2 separate regions of the Homo sapiens genome follow, and region 2 is linked to region 1. The links come from fine-mapping of genetic effects on gene expression. Tissue or cell type: tibial nerve. Region 1 holds a variant in brackets; the other region holds the start of a gene. All regions are shown on one strand. Distances are from middle to middle. Region 1 overlaps LINC01497 (long intergenic non-protein coding RNA 1497). Region 2 holds the start of LINC01497 (long intergenic non-protein coding RNA 1497).

What was found.
Region 2: it holds the start of LINC01497, and the variant in region 1 is fine-mapped to the expression of LINC01497 in tibial nerve (GTEx, PIP 0.97).

The regions. Positions count from the first base shown.
Region 1 is chr17:69,965,990-69,968,909 of GRCh38, reverse strand. The region is part of intron 2 of LINC01497 (long intergenic non-protein coding RNA 1497); the gene reads right to left. Among named protein-coding and RNA genes, the nearest start is that of LINC01497, 5.7 kb to the right of the region's middle. The variant T/A (reference allele first, on the strand shown) is at 1,272.
Region 2 is chr17:69,960,476-69,963,395 of GRCh38, reverse strand. LINC01497 (long intergenic non-protein coding RNA 1497) reads right to left here and starts at 1,689. Exons shown (of 5, transcript NR_110875.1): 1 at 1,559-1,689.

The DNA of each region.
Region 1 (2,920 bases):
TTAAGAGATGAACTCAATCCCCTATGTAATGTAACTATCACTGTAATATGTGGTTTGCATTTCAACAGAAAATAAGTTTTTACATTAGAAATTTTTTAATGTATTGAAATTTCAACTGTGAATTTTTTCTTTAATTTCAACTCTTAGGAAAGAAATGTCTATTTGTTTCTCTATTCTTTTGTCATGAGATTTCTAATGTTTAAATGTTTGATTTATTTTCCATCTAAAGTTTATTTGTATAAAGCTCAGAATCCGATCGGCATGAGTTGAGTATAACAAATTGGCTGGAAAAAGCCTGTTGTTTGTAGGATATTTCACTTTTCATCAATATTCATATTCTATTAATATTTTAAAGCCCAATTATTCTCACTCTCTAGCAAAGGCTGAAGTGACTTTTAACAATAGATATTCTTTCCAAAAAAGAAAAAAAATCCAAACAATTTCTCCCTTTGTAAGTATAAAACTGCCTAAGCTCAGCCTCTCTTTTTCTGCCACATCCAGCCTCTTCCTCCCACCCCCACCACCATTAGATTTTACACACCATCCATTGTCAGGGACGCAAACTCCTCTACAGTTTGTTAATGTCCAAGAAAGGCCATCACCTCTGAATCATTTTTTCCCCACACATAAATCCTTGAGCCAACAAAGAAAAGTGGTATTTTTCCATTTCCATAATTCCTGTTATTTTAAGTCTATCCCTTAACCAAAGTGGCTTTTTGTTTTTTTTTCCTTGATAACTCACAGGTTCAAATGTAAAAATTTATTATTACAAGGAACAATTATGAGGTTCAAAGCATACTGTGTGCATTCCATGCTCCTAGCTTCTGGTACTGATATACGGAATAAAATACTTGTGGTTGTCTACTTGCATGAAGTGGATGGGATCCAACCACTGGTGGTGAGAGGCTTAATGAATGTCTGCCTTCGTCAGACCCAACAGGGATCTAGCATCATGGGAGGTTGCCCAAGTGCCATACTGCAGGCATCTCAAAAACAAACTTTTGACCATTTAACTTATTCTTTCCAGTTACTCTTCAACGTCAACAATAACAACCACCAAAGAGGAAAAAATGGCTTTGCTTCTTTTCTTACTTTAAATATTGTTCTGGATTTTAAGATTTCAAGATATCTTCCCCAAAACATTGAATTAGACAAACCACTGACCTTTTTGAACACCTTTGGGTTTTGCTTCTTCAGGGCAGCATGTTCAGCACTTTTTTTTTTTTTTTTTTTTTTGAGACAAAGTCTCACTCTTGTTTCCCAGGCTGGAG[T/A]ACAATGGCGCAATCTTGGCTCACTGCAACCTCCACCTCCCAGGTTCAAGCGATTCTTCTGCCTCAGCCTCTCCCAGGTAGCTGGGATTACAGGCGCCTGCCACCATGCCTGGCTAATTTTTGTATTTTTTAGTAGAGACAGGATTTCACCATGTTGGCCAGGCTGGTCTTGAACTCCTGACCTCAGGTCACCACCCGCCTGACCTCAGGTCACCGCCCGCCTCGGCTTCCCAAAGTGCTGAGATTACAGACATAAGCCACCGCGTCCAGCCATGTTCAGCATTTTGATAACTCCCTGCTCATAAAGTCTTCCTTATTTGATGAGATACTTCATTTACATAGTAAAACCAAACAAAAACAAAAACAAACCACAGCATTCTTAATAGTTACTATTTTCTTGCTGTCTCTGTTTTCTTTTGTTTTTAAATAAGACTAGACATAGTAGTTCCCTCTTCTGTGCTCCTATATAATGTTTATAACTGCATAATAGAACAAAAAAATGTGTTTTAGTTACTTGTGTGTATGTTTGCCTCTTCTGGAATACTGAGAGCTTTTTGAGGTTACAGATATATCCTGTGCTTTTTCTTTGCATAGCACATAACATAAAGTCCAATACATAATAGGTAGTCAATAATGAGCTTAAGTAAATGAATTGCCTCTGATTTGTGTATGATAGTTGGAATGCCTCAAGATTTTTAAATCGTCTGCACATTGATATCATACTATCAACAGATCTTTTGCTGTTAAATGTTCAGTAACTATCAATAATAGTTCATAATGCTCTAAGCAATACCGTCTAACAATATAGCTGAATTTGGCATACCCAGATACTTAGTTTTGTACTTTTTGGTGTGACAGAGACTGCACATATGCACTAAAATCCATTGCCATTTCCCACTGGGCACACACACACACACACACACACACACACACAAATACATTTTCTATCACACTTTGCAATTAAATATGGCCATATGACTTAATTGTGACCAACAGAATGTGGGCAGAAAAGATGTTAATCAATTTCAGGCCCATTTTATCACAATATCCCACAAGTGATCCTTGTTGTTTTTTTCCATTTGTCCCTGAAAAGGGAAGGATCCCAGAACCTATAATGCAGCCTTAGGATAGAGATCAGATTAAGGAAATAAGTATTCACAAATATTATTTCAGATAGCCTCATGGAGGCTGATAGATGAGGTTGGAACAATGAAGGTTCAGGTCATGTTGTTTCATGGCAAAACATATGGTAAAACCACTTCATACATTAAATAGAAAGGCACAACACACCTCATGAGCCTATAAGCCTGTAGTTTTTGGACGTGAGGACAAGAGATTGATATGAGAGTAACAGTGCCTATTTGCTACTATTGGCCTTTCTTAGCAATGTATTACAAGAAAGAGATGAGCACAGACAAAAACAGACTTATTTTGAAGCAGAAATTGAAATGGATATGTATCCAGAGATCAATAACTTTTAGAGTTAATAAACCTGAGTGCTTCTGCATCCTAATTAAGATAAATTGAAAAAGGCTCTGAATGACAACAATCAAATAAAATTATTGTTAAAAAACAGACAATTTAATATAAGGATTAGACTAAGGAAACAGTATTCAAAAATATTATTTCAGATAGCTTCAGGGAGGTTG
Region 2 (2,920 bases), 5.5 kb after region 1:
ATTAGTTTATTAGCAAATATAAATTTTTACATGTTTGACTTTTTCCCACTCTAATTGTTCTTATGACTGATATCCAACTAAGAAGAAATGTGACAATAGTGGGTAGTGACAGAATGACCATTTAGGTATTAAAATTCTTTCTTCACTTAATTGTCAACTGGTTAGGAGAAGTGGGATAACTTTCTCTTCTGACGGAGGGAAAAAATGACCAAGGTATTGTAAAGAAAGTTTAATCAGCAGACATCAGACTTGGTTGGAATCATACACATGGTAGTAACAGTCAAGCAAAGATGGAGGAAAGATAATAGACAGCATCTGGGAAATGGTACTGAAAAAGAAGTGGGACACAAAATCTCCATTAGCAGAGAGACAACAGTAGTCTTTTTGTGTGGTTTACTGTTATAAAATTCTGAATAGGAATTCTGTTTCACAGCTGTTAAAAGAGAATTGAAATACAACTGTGTCCAATAATTGAAAAGCAGCTGTTCATTCGCCATGTCTAAAAACAATTGTATAGGAGAAATTGGCTTGGCAGTACAGCAAAAAAAAAAAAAAAAAAAGTGTAATTATTTTTAATTGCCAAAGTGGGGAAGCAATCTGACAGTGGAATAGGACATTGTATGACATCATGAAATCTGCTTTTCTGAGAGTTGAAAAATGGTTAACATTTTCTCTGCCTGATGTGCTATCCGAAGGCAGGAAGGAGTCCCAGTTCATCCCTTATAGGCCCTTAGAGAGAGCATTGTGATGCCAGTTTCCTTTTTTTGTCTATTTTTCCTCCATATATGTACACATATTGTGCACATAACTGATATGTTTTCTTAAGACTTCCCTTTACAGTAACTATTTCCCACTCTGCTGCAGACTAACAAAAACAGAAAACTAAAGGGAAATCAGTGTGAGTCCTGAAAGTTGTGTCCTGCAGTAGGGATTCTGCATAAAACACAAAGAGAGGACACAAAATACGCCACTTTTCAAGTCACATTTACAAAAGGCTTCTCTTTTATCATAATTCACTCGCCAAAAATATAATTGGACAGTCCTTTAGCATTCTGCAGTATTTCTCAGCACCAGCAAAGAGACAGTAAGGAATTTTTCACCAAGAGCCATGAGTAAAGAGAGCTTGTAGCCTTCTACAAGGATCTGGTTGCTCTGAATGGTCAAGTAATCGTGGGAAGTTTATTGTCAATGCCCGGGTAGCAACTCTTTCAACTATGTGATGATCCGCTTTTTTGCTTGCTTTCTATTAAAAAACTGTATTTGATTCTGTGCAAATTCATAAACCAAACACAAAATTCAGGGGTTAAAGAAAACAGTTCTGTAAACAGATGAGACAGACATGCTAATACATTGGAAACATGCTATTTAAATTCAGACTAGTTAAACAGGATGCCCTTTTGTCACTGACCAAATTGTTAAATTGGTGCCTTGGCAAGAGCCTTTTGTACTCTGAAGATTCCCGGGATCCAAACCTCTGTGGTATTAAAACAAACAGAGTAAATATTTTCCTTGAAGTTTACATCCAAGATCTAAATATTTCCAAGCATGTCAAACTCACTTTTCTCCACCGCTCCCTGCAGGGTCCGTGTAGACTTCGGCTGCCAAAGAACCCAGTTGAACTTGCCTTGGGAGGGGCTCCATCCCTGAAGACAAGCAAAGCTCAGAGCCAGAAGCAGGGTGTCTTGCAGCTGTGCTGCTCTGCTTGGCAGAAGGAACTCACGCAGCAGCAGGTGTGCTATCTGCTGACTTCAACACACAGAGACGGGGAAGGCTCTGTCCTTGCTGCTTGCTCCCTAAGCTTGAATATCTGCCATTCCCTTTTACCTATTTGCAGAGAAGTGCCAAGAACCTACCCCGGAAAACCTGCATTTCTCTTCATTAGCTTTAAGTGTGCAAGTCAGCTTTCTAGCTACATAACTTCTAGCTACATAACTTAAGCTAGTTGCAACTGCAAAATAAAGTGATTCCTCTGCAGAATCTAGCAGAGAATATTAACAAACTCTGTTTCTTCTCTCTCTCCCTTGTTTCATATTGTTTTCCATCCAACATGCAGCTGAAGTTCTCTTAGAAAGAGACTACAAAGAACCACAATTGAGTACCACATCAGTATTTTTTTTGGACCTTGTATCTTGGGGACTTACTCTGAAAGTGTCCCAGCATAATCGCGAAGACAATGCTCTGCTCTTTCTTTTTTTTTTTTTTTGGTAGTTACTGACAGTAAATTTTCAAACTGCCATCTCAAATTCAGTGTAATTGAACTCAACCAGAAATAATGAATATAACTGTGGGTATCAATACCTTTGCCTTTAAACTCAGTGAGGTACTTCAAAGTACCTCATCCCACCTCTAAGAAATGCACTTACATTTACCTGGAGTTACCTAATATAAATGAGCCCAGTGCTGCACTGGCCAGGCCTTCCTTCACTGAAGAACTTGTTGCTCTTCAGCTGTTGGCAGATGGCCATAAGCTGGCTGCCCTTCCAAGGATTGCCTCTGTTACAGAGAGCAGCCTTGCCCAAGGACACATCCCTTTGCAGGGAGCCCACATCCAAAAACTGATCAAGGAGGGAGTGTAAGGGCCTGTTCATTGCAAATCAACCTGAGAAAATGCTGAAGGGTCATTCTAGCTCTAGAAATCTCTATGAGATTCCCTGAAGCTGTGATGGGTCTCCGTGGAAGCTCAACTTCTTTCTCTGCCCTGTCTGCTTCCTTCCCCTAACTCGAGAGGTGTTGAATCCAAGGATGCACCTTAATTAACATAACGAGCTCTTAATTTCATCTCAGATTCGGCTTCCCAGGAACCCTAATCTTTGCCACATAGGCTCCTACAAAGCCCATTTTGGGGGGAGTCATGTCTGCATTTGATGCAGGCATCCAACCAGTCAAGTATTTGATTAAATAGGTACAATGTATAAATTTA